7 linked regions of the Homo sapiens genome follow. The protein of the gene in region 3 interacts with the protein of the main gene of each other region in a biochemical or structural test. Each region holds a gene or a part of one and is shown on either strand. Other genes may lie near its edges.

The links.
Region 1: the proteins of EIF2AK2 (region 3) and CAPRIN1 form a complex in vitro, tested with the Homo sapiens proteins (one study listed by BioGRID).
Region 2: the proteins of EIF2AK2 (region 3) and MOV10 form a complex in vitro, tested with the Homo sapiens proteins (one study listed by BioGRID).
Region 4: the proteins of EIF2AK2 (region 3) and DHX30 form a complex in vitro, tested with the Homo sapiens proteins (one study listed by BioGRID).
Region 5: of the proteins of EIF2AK2 (region 3) and MAP2K6, one has a biochemical effect on the other in vitro, tested with the Homo sapiens proteins (one study listed by BioGRID).
Region 6: the proteins of EIF2AK2 (region 3) and TOLLIP form a complex in vitro, tested with the Homo sapiens proteins (one study listed by BioGRID).
Region 7: the proteins of EIF2AK2 (region 3) and DHX58 form a complex in vitro, tested with the Homo sapiens proteins (one study listed by BioGRID).

What each region holds. Positions count from the first base shown.
Region 1 is NC_000011.10:34,082,731-34,086,230, reverse strand, and holds part of CAPRIN1 (caprin-1), read right to left. Parts: intron 3,407-3,500; coding exon 3,354-3,406; intron 3,277-3,353; coding exon 3,190-3,276; intron 168-3,189; coding exon 12-167; intron 1-11. UniProt on the Homo sapiens protein: mRNA-binding protein that acts as a regulator of mRNAs transport, translation and/or stability, and which is involved in neurogenesis, synaptic plasticity in neurons and cell proliferation and migration in multiple cell types.
Region 2 is NC_000001.11:112,698,659-112,701,239, forward strand, and holds the end of MOV10 (helicase MOV-10), read left to right. Parts: coding exon of another isoform or gene 1-15; exon of another isoform or gene 16-56; coding exon 57-131; exon of another isoform or gene 132-155; intron 156-799; coding exon of another isoform or gene 800-913; exon of another isoform or gene 914-1,026; coding exon 1,027-1,152; intron 1,153-1,235; coding exon 1,236-1,324; intron 1,325-1,560; coding exon 1,561-1,682; intron 1,683-1,757; coding exon 1,758-1,849; 3' UTR 1,850-2,081; downstream 2,082-2,581.
Region 3 is NC_000002.12:37,098,710-37,101,845, forward strand, and holds the end of EIF2AK2 (interferon-induced, double-stranded RNA-activated protein kinase), read right to left. Parts: 3' UTR 501-3,136; downstream 1-500.
Region 4 is NC_000003.12:47,809,638-47,813,137, forward strand, and holds part of DHX30 (ATP-dependent RNA helicase DHX30), read left to right. Parts: intron 1-1,019; 5' UTR 1,020-1,046; coding exon 1,047-1,074; intron 1,075-3,500.
Region 5 is NC_000017.11:69,522,697-69,526,196, reverse strand, and holds part of MAP2K6 (dual specificity mitogen-activated protein kinase kinase 6), read right to left. Parts: intron 2,684-3,500; coding exon 2,556-2,683; intron 1,297-2,555; coding exon 1,219-1,296; intron 1-1,218. UniProt on the Homo sapiens protein: Dual specificity protein kinase which acts as an essential component of the MAP kinase signal transduction pathway.
Region 6 is NC_000011.10:1,292,633-1,296,132, forward strand, and holds part of TOLLIP (toll-interacting protein), read right to left. Parts: intron 3,163-3,500; coding exon 3,013-3,162; intron 1-3,012. UniProt on the Homo sapiens protein: Component of the signaling pathway of IL-1 and Toll-like receptors. Inhibits cell activation by microbial products. Recruits IRAK1 to the IL-1 receptor complex. Inhibits IRAK1 phosphorylation and kinase activity.
Region 7 is NC_000017.11:42,102,715-42,106,214, forward strand, and holds part of DHX58 (ATP-dependent RNA helicase DHX58), read right to left. Parts: intron 3,276-3,500; coding exon 3,022-3,275; intron 2,454-3,021; coding exon 2,304-2,453; intron 2,214-2,303; coding exon 2,052-2,213; intron 1,085-2,051; coding exon 894-1,084; intron 1-893.

The sequences.
Region 1 (3,500 bases), on a different chromosome or scaffold from region 3:
AATGAACATACCTGTATGAAATTATAGGGACCCTGCATTTGTGCCATAAGGTCTTGTACTCGCTGTCTTCTCACAAGGGGATCTGCCTGAGCCACTGGAGTCAAAGAGTGGGGCTCTGGTACTGAAGGGGATGCAGCCTGAGGTTGCTGCTGGAGTGAATTTACCACCTAAGGTAGAAAAAAAAGGATTAGAAGGAATAGGAGAGCAAAAAAGCTCCACTCACTACCACCATGATGGGTCCCCCACACTACATAAACCATCTATACTATAAACAGAACGGGCTTTAATGCAGTTACCCAAATGAATTACATTTATGCCAAATTTAACATTCTGAAAAATGTCATCACTTCTACAGTGTTTCAGTTCCATAAGACCACTATGTAGCATTTCATGTTGATTTACTTATTTATTTATTTTTTTTTCTTTCGAGACGGAATCTAGCTCTGTAACCCAGGCTGGACAGCAGTGGCGGGATCTCGACTCACTGCAACATCCATCTCCCGGGTTCAAGCAATTCTCCTGCCTCAGCCTCTCAGGTAGCTGGGATTACAGGCACCCATCAACACACCCGGCTAATTTTTGTATTTTTAGCGGAGACAGGGTTTCACACCATATTGGCCAGGCTGGTCTTGAACTCCTGACCTTGTGACCCACCCGCCTTGGCATCCCAAGTGCTGGGAATACAGGCATGAGCCACCATGCCCAGCCTCAGATTTATTTTATAAGCTGCTTTCAAAGAAAGATTACCTGTGTTTACATCCTAAAATAATGTATTTTTCTTAAAACTGTTATGCCTTCTATAGTAACTGGATTTATATATCTATGTCAAATATATATCTATCTCACAACCTGGTACATAGCACTCAAGAAATGTTAGCTATTATTATCATCAAGATTTGGGTTTTTCCCATTCCATTTTCTCAGCCAACACCATAGGATCAAGCTTTACCAACTCATCTAAACTGCTACAGAAGCCAAAGCTCACTCTATTAGCCTTTTCCCAGCTCTAATAATTTCCTCTGCTTATTGTTCTTAGTAATTCCCTGCTCTGCAAGGAAATCCTATCTTTTATTACATCAAATTTATATTATTCTGTCTGGATTTAAAACTGGACAAGTCATACTGGTTGAAACTAGGCAAAATCAGCTATTCCCTTTATAAACAACACAGATAAAAATCACTACCAAAGCGAAACCAACAATCTGTGTAATACCAACTTCAGGATGCTCCAAAAATTCGTGGAATCTCATGTGGATAGCCTTTAGAAAGGCCCACCTACTAGATACAAAGAACAAACCACACTGGCACAGTGGCAAGTAGTATGCTCTTCTCAAATAAAATCCAAAAAATACTTAACTACAAAGCACTGTATACTGCTTCCCAACTTCTTCCTACTATGTCAATATTTACCTTGCATTCTATGTTCAATAAAACAAATATGTTAATAGTTCATTTCTACTTCTACATCCATGCTATACATCCCTATTACCTGGCTCCCCTAAAAACATACATCCCATCGACTTAGTCAAGGCTCAATGGGTTTGTACACCTCATATATACAGCTGACATTTGAACAACATGGGCTTGAACTGCACAGGTTCACTTATCCTCCAGTACTCTTGAGATGTGAAACACCTGTATATATGTGGGTCCCGCAGATACATGGCACAACTTGAGTATGAGCAGACTTCGGTGTGTGGGAGTGTCCTAAAACCAATGCCCCTGGTATAACAAGGAACAACTGTAAATCACCTCTACTAATCTTTTTGATTGATTTCTCTTCTAATCCTCCTATAACATTTCTGAACTGCATTCTTTAATTCAGCAAATATACACTATTTTGTTGGGACTTCCTGAGCAGTATTTTCATCCCAAGTACCTTTCTGGGGTAAGTGCCTACTCTCTTTACCTTACCAATGGGACATTTTGGTGCTCCAACAGAGGGATGAAGTTGCTGGCACAATTATAACATCTATGGGCCAGGCGCAGTGGCTCATGACTGTAATCCCAGCACTTTGGGAGGCTGAAACGGGCAGATCACTTGAGGTCAGGAATTCAAGACGAGCCTGGCCAAAATGGTGAAACCCCATCTCTACTGGGCAAGAGTGAGACTCTCAAAAAAAAAAAACTTTGCAATCTCTTTGGAAAATGGGTTTTTTTCTTCTTGAGACAGAGTCTCTGTCAACCAGGTTGGAATGCAGTGGCACGATCTCAGCTCACTACAACTTCTGTCTCCCCAGTTCAAGTGATTCTCGTACCTCAGCCTCCCAAGTAGCTGGGATTACAGGCATGCACCACCATGCCCAGGTTTTTGTTTGTTTTTGAAGTAGAGACTGGGTTTCACCATGCTGGCCAGGCTGGTCTCTAACTCTTGGCCTCATGTGATCCACCTGCCTCAGCCCCACAAAGTGCTGGGGTTACAGGCATGAACCACCGTGCCCGGCCAAGAGAATGGTCTTGATATAAGAATAACATATTAAAAGGAAAAGCATATTACCCTCAGCTTACAGCTATTTTCCTGCACCTTGGGGGTGTAAAGAAAGACATCTAAAAGAAGATCAAAAGGAAGGCCAGGACCAGTTGGTAAGGTTTTTAGACTGTATCTTACAGGTAACAAGGCATCACTGAGAGCCTCAAGTACAAGTAACTTAAAGCTAACTTTTCCAATAATTAAGTTGTGACAATGAATAGGATGGTCTGGAGGCAGTCAGAGAGGAGTAATATGAAGAGAGTCACTGAACTAGACATGAGGACCCGAAAAAAATCATCATTATCAGTTGAGAGACAGCATTAGAAAACGCTAGAGGAAGTCTACAGCCTGGTGACCAAACAGCATTAGGGTAAAGGAGGAGTGCAAGATGATACCCCAAAACACAGCTATCAGTGTGGGAGCCCAGATTTTTACAGAGCAACCTAATTTCAGTAAGAGACAAATCATGGTAACAGATTAATCCACAGATAACTTTGTATAAAATAATTTTTTTAGATTGGTTCAGCAAAGCAGGGATCCTATTAAACATCCACAGGGATAAACATTCATTTTTTGGAAGTAACAGTCTGGTGTAATGAGTCTGTTATTATAATAAATGTACTAATAATGCAAAAAACAATCTTAATTTGTTCTCAGTAGAGATAAAAATTACTAACTGAAGACAAAGACAACAACTTTGCAATACAGAGAACTCTTACCTCAACCGTTTCAACTGTCCACTCATCTACCTGCTCCTTTTCACCACTGGTGAACTGTGTTTCTGCCATGAACTGTCTATTTACATACTGCAAAGCAAAGTAAATGTTTGAGACATTTGTTTGAAAGGCAGCAAAGTAAAGGCAGCATTAAATTAAAATCATACCTCTGTTGATTCAACTTCACTTTGCTCAGTGTACTCTTCTGCTGGCTCAGGTTCTAAGAGGTTAAAAAATGGTGCAAAACAAAAGGATTTTTAGGTCAGTGATACTACTCTACTCTGTGTGATATTGGTAGATACACGTCATTATGC
Region 2 (2,581 bases), on a different chromosome or scaffold from region 3:
TCCCTCTTGCATTAGGTTAATGGCACGAGAGAAAGGCACCTGTCCCCTCCTTCCAGGTGGAGAAAATCCGTTACTGCATCACCAAACTTGACAGGGAGCTTCGAGGACTGGATGACATCAAGGACTTGAAGGTGACATGCTGTTCCACAGTCACTCCCTGCCTTCCGTGTGCCCCCACTTGCCCACTTCCAGAGACTTCCTCAAGCTTCCACTCCAGCCCACGTCCCCGTCCCACCCCTGCTGCCTTGAATAGAGCTCGAGCTCTCCCTGAGCCTCTCACTCCTGGAGATTCCAACTTAAGGGTCTGGGATGGGATCAGGAAGCCTGCATGTTTAACAAACACCTCCTGTCATTCTTAGACTGAGGCAGGTTTGAGGCCTCTGCCCTAAGGATAAAGTCCAAATTCCGTGGCCTGTCATGTGATGCTGCCACCCCCACCCCCAGTAGCCTCTCTCTTAAGGTTCTGGTCTCAACACTGGCTGCAGATAACAATCACCTGGAGAGCTTTTAATACCCCGCCCCCATGCCAGGGCCCCACCCACCAGCTCATACAGCTATCGGGGCAGAGCCAGGGCACTGGTAGTTTTTACAGCTTCTCAGGTGATTCTAATATGCAGCCAGGGTTGAAAACACTGCTCTAAGACTTACAGGCCTCTCTCTTGGAAATTCTGATCGGGGGTCCGGGTTAGGGCCCAGGGTTGTATATTCTTAACAGATACTTAGTGATTGTTTTCAGGAAAGTTTGAAAGTCACTGCTCTGAGTTCCCGTGTTCTTTGCAATGCTGTTTTCTTTCCTTAGAACACTTTGCAGGCCCCAGCCCTCAGCAGGATTCAACCTTCATGTTTCAGCTTCCACAGCCTACCTCCCATCCCCTTTCCCTGGGCCGTGTCGCAGCACTGGTTCACTCACTGATCTACAATTGCCCAGTGACCTCTCTGTACCCTCCTTGGAAGGCAAGCTCCCTGGGGTAGGGCACCCCTTTGACACCCCTGGCTGGTCTCAGGCCCTGCCTCTTTCCCCACTAGGTGGGTTCAGTAGAAGAATTCCAAGGCCAAGAACGAAGCGTCATCCTCATCTCCACCGTGCGAAGCAGCCAGAGCTTTGTGCAGCTGGATCTGGACTTTAATCTGGGTTTCCTTAAGAACCCCAAGGTTTGAGGGCTGGTCGGGGTGGCAGGAATTCTTCCATTCTCGGGGCTCTTCCCTCCCATGACCACACCACTTCTTCCTTCCAGAGGTTCAATGTAGCTGTGACCCGGGCCAAGGCCCTGCTCATCATCGTGGGGAACCCCCTTCTCCTGGGCCATGACCCTGACTGGAAAGTGTGAGCATTCCCACCCCATTCTCCCTCTTAGTGGCCACAGCCCCTGCCTAGGGCAGGTGGATCTTTTTTAAGCGCTTGCTTATCGCTCAGTTAATCCTCAGATGTGTCCATTTTCACAGCATCACTATTGTATTTATAAGTTAAATGACATCCAGAGGTTGAGCAAGTACAGCTCAGATGGGACAGGACCGTGGCTTAGCCTCCAGTCTCTGCTGGCACTCCTCTGTACCCCACAGATTCCTGGAGTTCTGTAAAGAAAACGGAGGGTATACCGGGTGTCCCTTCCCTGCCAAACTGGACCTGCAACAGGGACAGAATTTACTGCAAGGTCTGAGCAAGCTCAGCCCCTCTACCTCAGGTATGGCTGGGCCAGGGTGGGGACAGTGCCAGAGGAGGTGGTAAGGAAGACACAGTGTACTTTCTCTCTTTCCAGGGCCCCACAGCCATGACTACCTCCCCCAGGAGCGGGAGGGTGAAGGGGGCCTGTCTCTGCAAGTGGAGCCAGAGTGGAGGAATGAGCTCTGAAGACACAGCACCCAGCCTTCTCGCACCAGCCAAGCCTTAACTGCCTGCCTGACCCTGAACCAGAACCCAGCTGAACTGCCCCTCCAAGGGACAGGAAGGCTGGGGGAGGGAGTTTACAACCCAAGCCATTCCACCCCCTCCCCTGCTGGGGAGAATGACACATCAAGCTGCTAACAATTGGGGGAAGGGGAAGGAAGAAAACTCTGAAAACAAAATCTTGTTCTATGCAAAAGCCTTGATAATGTCTCCTCTGCCTGGCCCCAGCTTCCTGAGCCCCTAAGCTGACCCTGTAGGGAAGGGTGGGACTTTCAGCCCTGCTGAGGGTCACATCCCCTCCCAGCTGGAGAGGAACCCAGCCCCCACACTCGGGGGAGGAAACCCAGTGGGAGGTGGCAGGGAAGCCACCCACAGGTTTCTAAGTTTAGCCCCCTGCTACAGACCACTCCCTTCACCCGCCTCCTTGGCCCAGAGCCAGGCATGACCTCATCCTTTGCTCTAAGACTCCACCCTGCTGGCCACTGGCCTGCTTTGTAGACAGGGGGCCAGGCTGGCAAGCAACTTGGACATGAAAAGAGATGGGACACCAAGCACCCAGAGGGAAAGACCGAAAGCTGCCACACACGTTGGAGCCTGTAGCCTTTATTCATGCCCCCCTGACCAAATGCAGTGAGAGACAAGGCCCCTGCCGAAAACAACTCCAGGGGCCTGGGACTCTGGGTCCCCTACTGCAGA
Region 3 (3,136 bases):
AGAGAGTGGGAGATATCCCTCTGTTGTCCATCGAAAGATAAAAATACAGGCTTTCAGCCGGGTGCAGTGGTGCATGCCTTTGGTCCCAGCTACTCAGGGGGCTGAGATGGGGAATCCTTTGAGCCCAGAAGTTTGAAACCAGCCTGGGCAACATAGTGAGAGACCTCCATCTTAAGGGAATAAAAAAAAAATCAGACTTTCAATATGAGTAACAAGTTATTTTTAGGCCTTTTATGACTTTATAAATAGGCAATAATGAACACCAAGGGAAGCAAAACACTGAAAAGAATTTTAAAATTTGTTGTAGAACATTAATACGAAATTTGAAACTGCAAAACAATGTAAAATTTAATGTCATGTTGTCATTTACTTTTGTGTATATTGTGCCATGTTTATTTTCAAAGTCCTATCTAGAAATTCTAAAATGTCTAATTTTCTTAATTAAAAATCCAGAATTCTGTAGTTTCTGAAATTCAAAATAAATACTTTAACATACCAAATTGGTTTTTCTAATAAACATTTATTTCAAGTGTTATTTGTTAAACATTTAATTGTTGAGATTTGAAAATGAACATTATTATTTATTAGACACATTTTATAGGCTCATTCAAAATTCTTAACTTTTGAGTTCCTGCTTTCTTCACAGCAGTGCACTCACTACTTTCTGGTATACAAGAAGAACAGCTTGTCCCCACTCTTACAGTGTAATGAAATTAGCAGTATAATGAAGAAAAGTGCTGTGTAGGAATGACTGAGCTCTAAGACAAACTGGTAAGAACAATTAGGTACTAAACAATGGGAGTACTAGGGAGAAGATTCATTTTGAGTGGGAGATGTTGGAACACTTTGGAAATAACACTGAATTTGGGTTCTGAAAGATGGATATAATTTTGATATGCAAAGTTATGAGGAAAGAGTTACTGTATAATCCAGCCATTCTCCTAGGAATATACATCCAAGAGAAATGAAAACAAGTCCACATAAGATTTGTACACAAAAGTTCATAGTAGCATTATTCATGGTAGCCAAAAAGTACAAACAACCCAAATGTCCATCAGCTGATGAATGGATACATAAAATGCGACATATCCATATGATAGAATATTATTTGGCAATAAAAAGGAATGAGATGCTGATTCATGCCACAGCTGGGATGCACCTTGAAAATATACTCAGTGAAAAAGACCACATGTATGATTCCATTTATATGAAATGTCTAGCATGGGCAAATCTATAGAGATGGAGAGTAGATTAGTGGTTACCTAGAGTTGTGAGAAAACAGAGTGAATACTAACGGGCATAGGGTTTCTTTTGGGGGTGAGAAAAATGATAGTTGCACAACTCTGAATATAGTAAACACTACTGAATTGTATACTGTATAGGTGAATTGTATGGCATGTGAATTATATCTCAATAAAGCAGTTATTAAAAAAAAAATGAAGAGAATTTCAGATAGAAACCACAGGAGAGAGCCACTGAGTGCAAAAGCCTGTTGAGGTAAAACTGCAGACCTGCATGGGTGGGGCTTACTCGGGAAACACTGAATATGGGATGCATCATGGAAGCCTCCAGAGGAGCATGGCCTTGCCCAGTGAACTGCAGCCCAGTGAATCTCATTTTAGACTTCTGGCCTCCAGAACAGAAAGAGAATAAATGTGTGTTGTTTTAAACCACCAAGTTTGTGGTAATTTGTTAGTTATAGCAGCCATAAGAAATTAATACAGGTCCAAATCAAATTAACCCCATAAGAGCCACACAGATTTGAGAAGCATTTTATTTGCCTCACAGTTTTGCCTATTATACAGTTTCTAGTTATTTAGAATTTAAGCCAATAATGTCACCATATAACTATCAACTGTGATTCCCTTCATCTATGACTATTTTTAAGAAATGTAAGATTTGGATAAGTCATAATCACAGATCAGAAACTGCAGACATTGAGGCCTGGATGGCCGTTTAGAGAGAAAGAGTTAACATTTCAGTGGAGACCTTTCCTATCTTGTATTTCCTACAGTCTCCTCCTATCTTCAGTGCAGTGTTCTGGCAGCACCTCAAGCTCACTGTCACCAAATGGGATTCAACGTCTTTCCTCCCAAACATGCTCTACCTCACCATGTCGATAGATGTACAGTCGCCCCACTACTGGCTTAAATTCTAAATTACTGAAAACCATGTAACAGGTAAAAGTGTGAGACAAAGTACCCCTCAAATACATGTGGCTCTTGGGGTTCATCTGACTGAGACTTGTATTTACTTGAATGGCATCAGAATCCTGCTACTAACCTTCTAACAAACTTGGAGGTAATCTTTGATGCTTACCTTTCCTTAATCCCCACATCCAATTAGTTGCCAACTCCTCTTGGTTCTGTCCTCTTATTGTTCAGGCCCTCTTAGTCTTTCCACTTCTGACCTTTCAAATATAGTTTCCTCCTGCTCTATTCTAAACATGCTAGTTTCAAAGTATTGGTTGGGCCATACCTTGCTTTAAAGAAATACTCATTTGTCAACTGTGGAGGTTGCTAGGGCACTAACTCACTCTAAAATTTGATAAATATTTATCGCATCTTTCCCATTCAGATTTAGAGAAAGTTCCTTAAAGAAGAATCATAGATGATAAATGCAAGAGGTTTGATAGAACCAGAAAATCACTATTTTACAACCCCTGAAATGAAATAATGGATCCAGGCAACAATTATCAATAGCTGCTAAAACCATCAGGTGAAAGATTGATGAGAAACTTTGTAGTAGTTGGTACCACCAGAACTCATTGATCAATATTAAAATCACTGAAAGTGGAACAATCAGACATCATGTTCCTCCTGAAATGATGTAAGAGAAAGTGTATAGCATCACCTATGGAGTATTCTTGGGGGAAAATAAATGAACCAGGATCAAATCCAGCTTCTAGGTCTAACTGGACACTCTGGGGATACTCTCAGTCAAATCCTGAGTGGAGGAAATTCCACAGGACAAATAAAAGCCGAAAAGAACTAAAACGCAGGGGTAAATTTTACAGAGTAAAGGAGACACATCAACCAAATGCAATGTTGGATCTAGATTTCAACAACCAAGAAAACTGTATTTTTGAGATAGAAACAATACAGACTATTATATGATAATTAAGGAAATCTTGTCA
Region 4 (3,500 bases), on a different chromosome or scaffold from region 3:
CATCCCTTGGGGAGTGGAGGCCATCAGGGCAGACCTGCTATGGACCTGAAAGATTCCGCCCCAGGTCAGCCCTCCACTCCCCACCTCCCCACAATTTGAGAATGAGAGGGAACAGGAGTCAGGAGCCGGAGTGTTGGCCCCAGTAGACTCCAATCAATGTTGGACATGATTCTGATTGGCTAAACACTGTGTAGATGTTTTTAAACAAAGTCCATTTAAGGTTACTGCACTAATCAAGGAGTACTGGATTATAAAAACATCTATAAATCTGAGTTTGAGTATTTTTTAAAACAAAATTGTTAAACCAGATGTGTTGCTTTTTTTTCTTGTCATCTCTAAGTATAGTCCTCAGTTAAATATACTAATAAGCAAAATGCACCAAAACTTTTGGCTAATAGTTGTGCTTTAACTTAATATTTGTTATTTCATAGAGACTGCTATGAAAAGCTTTTTATTCTGAATCACTGTACAGTTATTCTTTGATCCTGTCAGTCAAATCTCATTTTTAGGGTCTTGACTAGGTTTTATGAAAGCCCAGTAAGGCAGTTTGCCCATAAGGCAGTCATCAGTCCTGTTTCCTGATGCCACATGACAGAAGGGGTCCATGTAGAATTTCGTTTCTTCCTGGAAGTCCCAAGGAAACCTGCAAGTATTATGATAACTAGGAAGGAAACCTGCAAGTATTATGATGAACTGGGAAGGAAACCTGTAAGTATTATGATGAACTAGATAGAACTACATGTCTCTCATGATGAAATGCATCTCCCTCTGTTTAACAGGATATGGGGAGTTTTAGGACAGGGAAGAAAGTGCTCAATTAGAAAGAAGCAAAGACAATTACTCTAGAGTGGAGCTGGCCTTCCAGTCCTCAAGACTGGGGAGCAGCAGTTGGGGCTCATTAGTGAAGAGTTTCATTTTTTTCATTTTCTGAACAGTGCTCTCCATGTTACTGAAGTCTTCTTTGTGGGTTGCTGGACCAGGAATATTAACCATTGCCTCTTGGCCCTCCTTGTTCTCAGGATTCCAGCTTTCCCTCCTGGCCAGAAATGTTCAGCCTGGACTCATTCAGAAAAGGTAAGACTGCAACTGTGCTTGTGACCTCATGCCCTTCCTTATTGGGATGGGCAGCTCTGAGGGCTGTGAAAGTCTCTCCCCAGTATGTAGTTCTTGCACATTTCTTTGGGTGGTTTTCCAAAGGCCTTTCCTATAGCCTTCCTTTTGCATGGTGCTTAGAATCTGTGCCAACCCTTGCCATGGCCTTTGCCATGCTTCCTCCCAGTGCCCCCTTCTGCGTACTCCCTGCTTATTAAAATCCTTTTTTTTTTTTCTGAGATGGAGCCTCACTTCTGTCGCCCAGGCTGGAGTGCAGTGGCACGATCTCGGCTCAGTGCAATCTCCTCCTCCTGGGTTGAAGCAATTCTCCTGCCTCAGCCTCCGTAGTAGCTGGGATTACAGGAACCAGCTGCCAAGCTCGGCTAATTCTTTTTTTTTTTTTTAGTTGAGACGGGGTTTCACCATGTTGGCCAGGCTGGTCTCAAACTGTTGACCTCAAGTGATCCACCCACCTCGGCCTCCCAAAGTGCTGGGATTACAGGTGTGAGCCACCGTGGCTGGCCTCTAAAATCCTATTTTTCTAGGCTAGTATTTTATACCATCTCCTTCATGAACCTTTCCTAATTCTGTTGACCAAATGCAATCTTTCTCCAATCTTCCTCGGTACCATACCTGTTCGTTCTCATGGTTAGTCTATTCTGAATTAATCATTTTGTCACTAGATTGGAAGCTCCCTGTAGCCAGGGCCTGTTGTGTGCTTTTACGATGCATAGCACCTGGCCAGCATTTCGCACATAGTAGGCCTCAGTAAACACTGGTGGAAGTTGGATTGAGTCTGTATTAGGCTGTTCTTGCATTGGTATAAAAAAATACCTGAGACTGGGTAATTTATAAGAAAAGAGGTTTAATTGGCTCACATTTCTGCAGGGTGTATAGGAAACATGGTGCTGGCATCTGTTTGGCTTCTGGGGAGGACTCAGGGAGCTTTCACTCAGGGGCAGAAGGTGAAGCGGGAGCAGGCGTGTCACGTGGCAAAAATCAGGATCCAGAGAGAGAGAGTTGGGGAGGTGCCACACAATTTAAACAAGATTGGCTGGGCATGATGGCTCACGCCTGTAATCCCAGCACTTTGGGAGGCCAAGGTGGACGGATTGCCTGAGCTCAGGAGTTCCAGACCAGCCTGGACAACACAGTGAAACCCCATCTCTACTAAAATACAAAAAATTATCCAGGCGTGGCAGTCTGCGCCTATAGTCCCAGCTACTTGGGAGGCTGAGGCAGGAGAATAGCTTTAACCCGGGAGGCAGAGGTTGCAGTGAGCCGAGATTACACCACTGCACTCCAGCCTGGGCAACAGAGCAAGACTCAGTCTCAAAAAAAAAAAAAAAAAAGGCCATGTGTGGTGGTGGGCACCTGTAATCCCAGCTACTTGGGAGGCTGAGGCAGGAGAATCGCTTGAACCTGGGAGACGGGTTGCAGTGAGCTGAGATCGTGCCATTGCACTCCAGCCTGGGCAACAAGAGTGAGATGCCATCTCAAAAATAAATAAATAAATAAATAAAATAAACAACAGGATCTCATGAGAGGCTGGGCGCAGTGGCTCACACCTGTAATCCCAGCACTTTGGGAGGCCAAAGTGGGCGGATCACTTGAGGTCAGGCATTTGAGACCAGCCTGGCCAACATGATGAGACCCGTCTCTACTAAAAATACAGAAAATTAGCTAGGCGTGGTGGTGTGCACCTGTATTCCCAGCTACTTGGGAGGCTAAGGCACGAGAATTGCTTGAACCCAGGAGGTGCAGGTTGTAGTGAGTCAAGATTGTGCCACTGCACTCCAGCCTGGGCGACAGGGCAAGAATCCATCTCAAAAAAAAAAAAAAGATTTCATGAGAATTTACTCACTATCACAAGGATAGTAGCAAGCCATGAGGGATCCATTCTGTGACCCTTCAACAGCAGAGATTACATTTCCTTTTTTTTTTTTTTTGAGACGGAGTCTCACTCTGTTGTTGCCCAGGCTGGAGTGCAGTGGCACGAGCTTGGCTCACTGCAACCTCTGCCTCCCGGGTTCAAGCAATTCTCCTGCCTCAGCCTCCCGAGTAGCTGGGACTACAGGCGTGTGCCACCACACCCGGGTAATTCTTGTATTTTTAGTAGAGATGGGATTTCGCCATATTGGCCAGGCTGGTCTGTAACTCCTGAGCTCAAGTGATTTCGCCCATCTCGGCCTCCCAAAGTGTTGGGATTACAGGCGTGAGCCACCAGCAGGAGATTACATTTCAACATGAGATTTGGGTAGGGACAAATATCCACACTATATCAAAGTCATTCTTTCGTTAGTGATCATAGAAACTCTGGCAAGTCTTGCCGGGCGCGGTGGCTCACGCCTGTAATCCCAGCACTTTGGGAGGCCGAGGCAGGCGGATCACGAGGTCAGGAGATTGAG
Region 5 (3,500 bases), on a different chromosome or scaffold from region 3:
AGCCGAGCATCTACTGCCACCTTCAGGTCCCTTGGTGAAATGACAGGGAGAAAAAGCAACCTAGAACCAAATGACAGATCTTTTTTTGGACTTGAGAAAAGGCCACTTTGCATTACAGGATCATGTGCTTTCTGGGCAGGCAGGAGAAATAACTCATGGGATTTATTCAGCTGCTGTGCCTGGGGAGGAGCCAGGACCACAGTGGATAATTCCAGACCTTGGTGATCCACTGAAAATGTATGACCACCAAAGTTATGAAATTTACAATCACCAAAGTTATGAATAAGTTATGAATAAATCATATAACTTTAGGGCTGTGTCTAAGGAAATCATCCTATTGGTTATCATGTATTGAGGATATACCTGACTGATACGGTTGGGCTGTGTCCCCACCCAAATCTCATCTTGAATTGTAGCTCCCATAATTCCTACATGTTGTGGGAGGGACCCAGTGGGAAACAATTGAATCATGGGGGTGGTTCCCCCATACTGTTCTATGGTTCTCATGGTAGTGAAAAAGTCTCACGAGATCTGATGGTTTTATGAAGCATCTCCCTTTTCACTTGGCTGTCTCATCTCATTCTCTCTTGTCTGCCGCCATATAAGATGTGCCTTTCACCTTCCGCCATGATCGTGAGGCCTCCCCAGCTGCATGGAACTGTGAGTCCATTAAACCTCTTTTTCTTTTAAATTACTCAGTCTTGGGGATGCTTTTATCAGCAGTGTGAAAACGAACTAATACACTGACCTGATCAGACTTTGACTTCTACTTCTCCAATAAAAATATCCTGGGAAGCATAGTCTATGTCCTGGATAACACGGCCCTATCAGGGTTCACGCACATTAGCATTCTTTGCACAGCTTAAGCTTCTTGCCTTGGCTCGAATAATTTAATTTTAAACTATAAGGAATCTGGTCAGATCCTCTCGTTTTACAGAGGAGGATAGGAAGATAGTCCATGTGACTGTAACAATTACTCAAAAAGGCATACAGCTCGTCAGAGGTGGAATCAAGAGAAAGATTGGTTTCCCCAATCCCATATCAGTGTTTTTATTGTACCACAATACAAACAATTATTACTCAAAATCTCCTACCAGCTCAGCAGGAGAGGGCGCCCCAAACCAGCATTTAGGGCATTTGTTTCTTGAACCCAACGTCCACCTCATTCTAGTTTCATTACCCACAACCTCATAGTTCATGATGATTGGCATACACTACCATCGTGATGCCCAGACTCCAAATGTCAGACTTCACACTGTATCCCTTCTGGTTGAGCTCTGGGTTTATTCTTTCAGGCTGGAAAGAAGACAGACAACTGAGAAACTGGGAAGACAATTGAGATAACGTTCTTAGCTCAATAGTCTCTGGGGATGGGGGTAGCACCAGCTGCCAAGTGAGTTGTTATAAGCTGTTAACATGCCACCAAGGCCAAGAAGACCCGGTTAACTACAACAAATATCAATGCCTCCGTGGGGTTTCCCTTCTTCTGTGTTTGTCTTTTCTTGGACACAGTAATGGATCAAGTTCCTTTCATAACAAATTTAAAATTTGCCTTAAGAAGAAACAGGGTATACATTATAAAGCTACTTTGCCCATCTAGAATTATCCTTGTTTAAAACATGAACAGTCCAGAACTCAATAAAACAAGTGTCACTGGGCTACTGTCCCATGCTAATAGACCTGAGCAATTTTTAGCTAAACACAGACAGGAAGCTTTTCAATTCAAAGCACAAGTCCATTTCCAGGTAGAATCTAGTGGCCGTTCCTCCAGTTAAAGGGGATTGCAAGGTCTCTGCTAATGACGGTGAATCTTCACAGCTGTGAGGTCCTCTCATAACTAATCTAACTGCCTTGTTTGGGTAATTTAAGCTCTATTTACTATTTTGTCCTCAACAAACAAGGTAATACTCCCCTGCAATACAGTGTGGAAAACTGTGCAGGCTATATGTATTGTGTATATATTTTTTCAAATAACGTATCTCTTTCACTTGATTTTTTTAAAGTAATATATATATAACTATGTCTGTGCCCCACCAAAATCCACAGGTTAAAACCTAATCGCACATGTGGTGGCATCAGAAGGCAGGGCCTTTGGGGGGTGATTGAATCATGAAAGTGGAATACTAATGAATAGGATTGGGGCCCTTATTAAAAAAGCCCTAGAGAGATCCCTCGCCCCTTTCACCGTGCGAGGACTAAGCAGGAAGGTGCTATGTATGATCCTGAGAAACGTGAGCCCTCATTGGACACCAAATCTTCTGGTGCCTTCATCTTGGATTTCCTAGCCTCCAAAACTGTGAGAGATAAATTTCTGTTGTTTATATGCTGCCTGGCTTACATTACTTTGCCATAGCAGCCTGAACAAACTAAGACAATATACGAAGCAAGTGAGTAAAGATTTCAGACATAAAATTTTGAAGAAATACTAAGAGGCAGACTACTTCTGGAGTCTTAGGTACATTTCCATTTTCCCTCTGTGGCCATCCATTTCTTGTTTCCCAGCATGATTTGTCGGCAGTGACATTACCAGATGCCACCCTAGCTAATGTACTTACGGCCATGTATGGTTTGCAACCTGCATCAATTGTTTTAGCAACAGAGTCCACCAAGTAGCCACTGATTCCAAAATCGCACATCTTCACTTGACCGAGAGCATTGATGAGTACATTAGAAGGCTTGACGTCTGAAAGCGAAAACAACCAGGATGCCATCATTTCAGCCTGCTTTCAAGGTTCATTTCTCTGCCACCAGAGGGCCTAAAATCTCCATTTGTCCTTCATCTTCCTTTCCCCAAGCTGCCCAACACAGAAGTAACTGCCATCCCTGACCCACAGTTAACAACAGCTTATTGCTTTCAACTTGATTTTCTATTTCATGTTTTGTTCATGCCTTGTAGAATTGTGAATTTCTCCATACAAAGAACTGTTTTCTCCACTGATTTTATGATCTTCATTACCCTCATACTTGTAGTAAGAGCCTAAAAAATTATTACTGAATCAAATGTCCAATTCAAAATGATCTATTGATATTTAACGTAGGAGTAATAAAACAAAGAACAAAAAGGCAGACTGTGACACAATGATACACCAAATATGACCAAAGCAACCTTTGTTTTTGTTTGGTTTGGTTTTTTCTTCAAGATAAGGTCTTACTCTGTCACTCAACCGGTGTGCAGTGGTGTGATCATAGCTCACTGCAGCCTCAAACTCCTGGGCTCAAATCATCCTCCCGCCTCAGTCTCCTGAGTAGCTTGGACTACAGGTGGGAACCACCATGCCCAGCTAACTTTTTTTTTTTTTTTTTTTTGACAGACAGGATGTCTCTTTGTTGACCAGGCTGGTCTCAAACTCCTGGCCTCAAGCAGTCCTCCCACCCCACCTCCCAAAGGGCTGTGATTACAGGTGTGAGCCACCAAGCCTGGCCCAAAGCAACAGATTTTGATTGAAACCTCTGCTAGCGATGTGTCAGAGGTCACATAGTGTAAAGGATCATAAACCCAG
Region 6 (3,500 bases), on a different chromosome or scaffold from region 3:
CATGCTGTTCTGGTGCAGGAGACACTGTGGACACCGTGGGGACACACGGGCACCGCTGCCTCCCCCACAACGGGCAAGAGACGCACGTCAGACAGCAGACACCGTGGGGACACACGGGCACCGCTGCTTTCCCCACAATGGGCAAGAGATGCGCGGCAGACACACAGCGCAGCAGACGGCGTTACCACTGCAGGGAGTGACCAGCTAGGAGGACCGGGTATGCGGGCTGCAGGATCTGGAGGAAGAGCTGCAGGAAGCGGGAGGAGAACGGCCAGGGAAGAGGAAGGTCAGGAGTGACTAGGGTGAGGAAAACATGGGCCCAGCTGGAGCAGGCTCGGCAGGACAGTGCCCACGAGAAAGGCCCACGCGGGAACGGACCTACTCTGGCCACGCTGCAGGGGCTGAGCGGGGGCAGTGGGTGGGTGCGGGGGGCTCCAGGCCTGGACGGGCTGAAGGTGGCGCCTGTGCTGAGGGTCAGGCCTGAAGGGCAAGAGGTGGACATGAACCTGGAGCACCAGCAGCACGAGGGCTTTGGGCCTCAGCTTCCAGAGTGTGGGGCAGCCACCTGCGGACACGGGGGAGAAGCCGGGAGGGTGGCCCGAGAGCTCCACCTTGGGCACACGGAGTCCGGAGTGCCCACGGAACACCTGGGGAGGCCATGTGGCCATGGTCCGTACCTAGGGATCTGGGGTGGAGCTGAGTGGTCGGCTCAGGCTGGGGCCAGCACATGGGTGTTTAGACCCACAGGGATGCAGAAGTCACCGGGATGTGTGGGCAGAGAGGGGAGGAGGGCTGAGGACCAGACCCCTTGGCATCCCACTGGGGCCCCAGGAGACAACAAGGGGAAGCAGCGAGGGGACGCAAGCAGGGAACCACCTGTGTGGCCGCCCAGAAGCCAAGAGAAGCAGGAAACAGGGGCTGAGCTACCTGGCCCAGTGAGGAGGCAGGAATGTTTCCCACCACTGGAGCTGCGCCACAGAAGGCTGGGTGAGCTCACGTGGAGGAAACAGGCTGCCTGTGGTGGGCTCCAGGGTGCGGGAGAGGACCAAGGGGGGCCAGAGGCGTGGGCAACGCCAGGGCCACCTCCAAGGCCCAGCCAGCTCTGGAGCTTGAACTGTGTGAGGTGGAGTGCCCTGCGGTCACCAGGCCCTGCCAGGAGGTGGCGGCTGAGGACGGGTGATGGCACTGGCTGGCCTGGTGGCAGCTGGCACAGGAATGCATGGGCTTACGGGAGTTCACTGGGTGGGCAGAGGGATCGGCCACACCAGCACAGTAACAGCTGCACAAGCAAGGGTCTGAGACACGCCGCGAGGAAGGGGTGACGGTGTAGCTGTGCTCACCACACCATGAAGCCCCTGAAAGCAAGTCTTATTTGTGAGGTCCACGGCGATTCTTCTGCCTGCTGTATTTGTGCATTTCTATGAAAGCCGCGTGGCTCACAGTGTGTCTCCTTTCCCTGCATTTCTACGAAAGCCCGCGTGGCTCACAGTGTGTCTCCTTTCCCTGCATTTCTACAAAAGCCCGCATGGCTCAGTGTGTCTCCTTTCCCTGCATTTCTATGAAAGCCGTGTGGCTCACAGTGTGTCTCCTTTCCCTGCATTTCTACGAAAGCCCGCGTGGCTCACAGTGTGTCTCCTTTCCCTGCATTTCTACGAAAGCCCGCGTGGCTCACAGTGTGTCTCCTTTCCCTGCATTTCTACGAAAGCCCGCGTGGCTCACGGTGTGTCTCCTTTCCCTGCATTTCTACGAAAGCCCGCATGGCTCAGTGTGTCTCCTTTCCCTGCATTTCTACGAAAGCCGCGTGGCTCACAGTGTGTCTCCTTTCCCTGCATTTCTACGAAAGCCCGCGTGGCTCACAGTGTGTCTCCTTTCCCTGCATTTCTACGAAAGCCCGCGTGGCTCACGGTGTGTCTCCTTTCCCTGCATTTCTACGAAAGCCCGCGTGGCTCACGGTGTGTCTCCTTTCCCTGCATTTCTACGAAAGCCCGCGTGGCTCACGGTGTGTCTCCTTTCCCTGCATTTCTACGAAAGCCCGCGTGGCTCACGGTGTGTCTCCTTTCCCTGCATTTCTACGAAAGCCCGCGTGGCTCACGGTGTGTCTCCTTTCCCTGCATTTCTACGAAAGCCCGCGTGGCTCACGGTGTGTCTCCTTTTCCTGCATTTCTACGAAAGCCCGCGTGGCTCACGGTGTGTCTCCTTTTCCTGCATTTCTACGAAAGCCCGCGTGGCTCACGGTGTGTCTCCTTTCCCTGCATTTCTACGAAAGCCCGGGTGGCTCACGGTGTGTCTCCTTTCCCTGCATTTCTACGAAAGCCCGCGTGGCTCACGGTGTGTCTCCTTTCCCTGCATTTCTACGAAAGCCCGCGTGGCTCACGGTGTGTCTCCTTTCCCTGCATTTCTACGAAAGCCTGCGTGGCTCACAGTGTGTCTCCTTTCCCTGCATTTCTACGAAAGCCTGCGTGGCTCACAGTGTGTTTCCTTTTCCTGCAGTCTTACAGACGGTTTTCGTGTGATCAAAATCGGCGTTCAATCTGCCGATTTTGGCTTTCACTTGAAAGACCACTAAGCAACCACGGGCCGGCCCCGAGGCTGACCGAGGGCTGCTCTGTGGGGAGGGAGGGTGCAGGCACCGGCACTGAGGCCAACAGGAAGCCACTCACGCAGCACACACCAGGTGGCGGGGGTGCCGGCCGCGCCTCCTCCAGCTGCCGGCGGGGGTCCGGGAGGTGTCCTTGGGCGTACTCAAGCCTGGTGGAAGAGCCAGGCCCTACACAGAGCAGACGCCCACCTACACCCACTACTCATCACTTGAGTTATGTTTGGTAGAACCCGGGGTCAATGCCAATATCTTTCACACAGATCGTTTTCAACATCACACAGGTTTCAGGAAAAGCGGGAATCAGAAGTTCTGTTTGCCCGCTTAGGAAATGCAGTATAAACGCCGAAATCCGAAATCCCACCCCCACCGAGCGCACCAGCCCCAGGCAGGCAGGAGGGTGCCCCAAGGCCCACCTGTACCACCGTGATGTTCAGTCGGCCCACGGTGCCCACTGCGCCTCCGTACTGCAGCTGCTGGGCCGCCTGGGCGTCCAGCTGGACCTGCCGCTGCTGCTGTGTGGGCGTGATGCGGAGGAAGTCCTGCGGGAGCTCACCGATGTACACCTGCGGGGCCGGGGACCAGAGAGGCCAGTGAGTCAGGGTGGGGGCACAAAGCAGCCCGACAGCAGCTGCCCCCGGCATTCCCGCGGCCCCGCCCCCACCCATGTCCTTATCAAGTCCTGGACTGTGCTCAGCCTCAGTTTCCTCATCTCTAAACGGAGGGGTCAAGGGTGTCCAGCCTGGGGCCTGGCCCCCAGCGGTACAGGTGCAGCCCTCACTCAGGAGATCCCCAAATGCAGGTTTCTGCCGCTAAAAATGGGTTCCTGTCCTCAAAGCCTGCTCAGGTGGGTTTTCAGGTCATTTTAAAGGGTCTCCCTTGCACCATGTGTGCCCACGGCTTC
Region 7 (3,500 bases), on a different chromosome or scaffold from region 3:
GACCTTTCAAATCTTCCACGGGCTAGTCTGTCTTTTTCTAAATCTCATTATTCACAGTCCCTTCCACTCAGGTCAACTGGTGTCGCTTTTTTTTTTTTAAAGGCAGAGTCTCACTCTATTGCCCAGGCTGGAGTGCAGTGGTGCGATCTTGGCTTGCCTCCCGGGTTCAAGTGATTCTCATGCCTCAGCCACCCAAGTAGCTGGGATTACAAGCATGGGCCACCACGCCCAGCTAATTTTTGTATTTTTTTTTAGTAGAGAAGGGGTTTCAATATGTTGGCCAGACTGGTCTTGAACTCCTAACCTCAAGTGATCTACCCACCTCCGCCTCCCAAAGTGTTGGAATTACAGGCGTGAGCCACTGCACCTGGCCCTCCATGGTTACCTTCTCATTCGCTCACATTCAAACCAGACCCATTGAGACCTAGCTGAAATGCAACCTCCTCAATTGAGAAAATCTGTGTGAAGATCCTTGGCACAGTGGCCCGGAACACAGAGGGTAACATAATGAATGGATGGAGGATGGGGGAAGGTTACTCTCTAGGAGATAGTGGATGGAGGATGGCCCAGGGATGGCCAAGCTCTCTTGATATCTTCGGAATAGGTAGGACCAGAGGGTCAATGTGTGGTCTTTTGACACTTAGTATCCTGAATTCCAGTTCTTGCTCAACCAGATAGTGGCTGTGGGAACTTGGGCAAGTCACATAGCCTCTCTGAGCCTCTATTTCCTTGCCTGTAAAATGGAGACAGGGATAAAACCTGTCTAACCAGATTATTGTGAAAATGCAAAGTACTTGCTACAATGCTCTTTAGCTTCCCAAAGCTTCAAAGCACTGTCTGGATGGGAAGGATTCCCAGGCCCCCATCCCAGTAGCCCCTTCCACAGGTCTCACGAGAAGTTGGGGTTCACATTGACATGGTGGGTGCCCTCCACCTTCCGCAGGTCGCTGCCATGGCCCACAGCCACCATGCAGTTGATGCAGAGTAGCTGCACGTGCTCCACTGGGAACTGCTGCCGCTGGTTCTCCCGCTGGGCTGCCTGGGCCGCCCGCTTGGTCAAGGCTGCCTGCTGCAGATCCCGGATCTGGGGTGGGAGGAGACACCAGGCATGGCTGGGGCCTAAGAGAACGTTCCTTGGGGGACAAAAGGTTCCCAAAGAACTAAGATCATTTGTACCTGGAAGAGACTTTCCTTAACCCTCCCTGGAGCTTAAAAGAAGCTCTATTGCTGTGATGATGCAGTAACTCATGCCTGTAATCCCAGCATTTTGGGAGGCCAAGGCGGGTGGATCACGAGGTCAGGAGTTCGAGACCAGCCTGGGCAACATGGTGAAACCCCATCTCTACTGAAAATACAAAATTAGCCGGGCATGGTGGCGCATGCCTGTAATCCCAGCTACTCGGGAGGCTGAGGCAAGAGAATTGCTTGAGCCCAGGAGGTGGAGATTGTGCCATGCACTCCAGCCTGGGTGACAGAGTGAGACTCCGTCTCGGGGAAAAAAAAAAAAACAGCTATGGAGAAAAACAGTATGAGTAGTCGGGGGCAACAGTGGGAGGGGTAAGCTTTCCTGCTCAATCTTGAAGGACTTTAGGCAAAGCTGCTTCTGTGAATCTGTCATGGGGCATCATTAACAATTATGCTGGGACAACAGGGAGCACCCTGGACAAGGCAGGATGGTGGTGGCCCTGCCTCAGGGGAACTGATGATATAAGTCCTAGTTCTGGGCTTATCTTCTGCACGTGGACTTATCTTGTCCCCTCTGCCTGGTTCCAGAAAGGCTGTAATGCAGCTCTTCCAGATACATAAAGTATCTCATGGCAAAGATAAATAAAGAGCCTTGGACAAGGCCTGTTCCCAAGGCCTTCTGGAGTCCAGGTACTGCCTTCCCTGGCAGCCCCACCCCGGCCCTTATTTAAACCTTCCCTAGGTGGCCAAAGTTAGCCCCGAGATGTAGAGGGGACAGGGGGACGTATGTGTGCAGTCAGAAACCTGCCAGGGAGGGGCTCCCTCCTCCCCATCCCTCCCACAGGGCATGCAGGCTGCCTGCAGACCTTGGCCTGGTACTCGGCCTGGTCCATTTTCTGCACAGCAGCCACTGCCTGCTCCATCAGCGTCTCCAGCGCCTCGTTGATCAGCTCCCGCTTCAGCTCCCGGCTACCTTCAGTTGCTACAAACGCGTATACACTCTGATCGGCCCGGGCACGGCCCCTGGCCTGGGAAGAGAGACAAGGGGTGTCCTGAGTTGGGCTGGGGCCCCACACAGGATCCTATAAGGGCGGCTGAGTGGAGGAGGATGTGAGTACCTGGACCATGGAGATTTCATTGGTCAAGAGCCCATAACGCACCACCACATTGCAATGTGGGATGTCCAGCCCCTCCTCCGCCACACTCGTGGCCACCAGAAGGTTCAGGGTTCCATCTTGGAACTTCTGGATCACTTCTTGCTGGTCCCTCTGCAGGCGGAGGGCAGGGAGGAGAAAGAGGCTGGTACATGAGGAGGCTCAGACTGACTCCACCTGCCAGAGTAGCCTCTTCTGGTTCAGCCCTCACTCCCAATCTTGGTCCATCTCCCTAGAGTACTTGAATCCCATCTTTATCCCCAGGTACCCCCAGGATCTTGCCCATCTTCCCAGGTAACTGTCCAACCCCTATCTTCCCTAGGGACTCCTAAGGGTCCCTGCCCCTCTAGTCTAGGAAAAACTCTCAAGCCATAGTCTTCTGCAAGGGACCCCAGACCTGATCCTGTGCCCTGAGGAACTGCATCACCCACCTCTTTCCCTACGGACCCCCATGCCCAACCTTCTGCCCCCAAGGACCTCCAGACTGGGAGAGGCTCCAGCACTGGGGAGGTCAGTGTCCGCCCCTCTCCCCTAGCTCCTTGCCCCTCTGCCTGGGGATAGTCAACTTTCTCTTTCCCCAGGGTCTCCCTGCCCCCACCTCTCTGTGCTGAAGACCCTGTTCCCCGCACTTCTCTCCTATGGAATCCCTCCCAGCGCCAGCATCTTTCCCCGAAGCCCACACCTGGGTCATGTGGGTGCTCTGGCTGCTGTTCCCAGCCCCAATCAGTAGCTGGGCCCGGATGTCCACAGTCTGCAGGCCCTGCTGCTGCTGGAGCCAGAGCAGGAGGGAGTGTGCGCTTTGGCGGGTGCGGGTGAAGATGATACCCCGAGGGCTGTTAGAGCTACTGAACTGCCTTTGCAGGATCTTTTCCAGCATCTCCAGTTTTGGATTCTCTGGGCCATGAGTTGCCAAGTGGGCCAGCTCATTCTTGCGGTCTGTCAAAAACCCCAAAATTTAGCTGGGTGTAGTGGCACATGTCTGTAGTCCCAGATACTTGGGAGGCTGAGGGCAGAAGGATCGCTTAAGCCTAGGAGGTCAAGGCTGAAGAGAGCTATGATTGCACCACTGCACTCCAGGCTGTGTAACAGAGTGAGACTCTGTCTGGGAAAAAAAAAAAGAAAGCAAGAAAGCAAGAGAAAGAGAGAGAGAGAAAGAGAGAA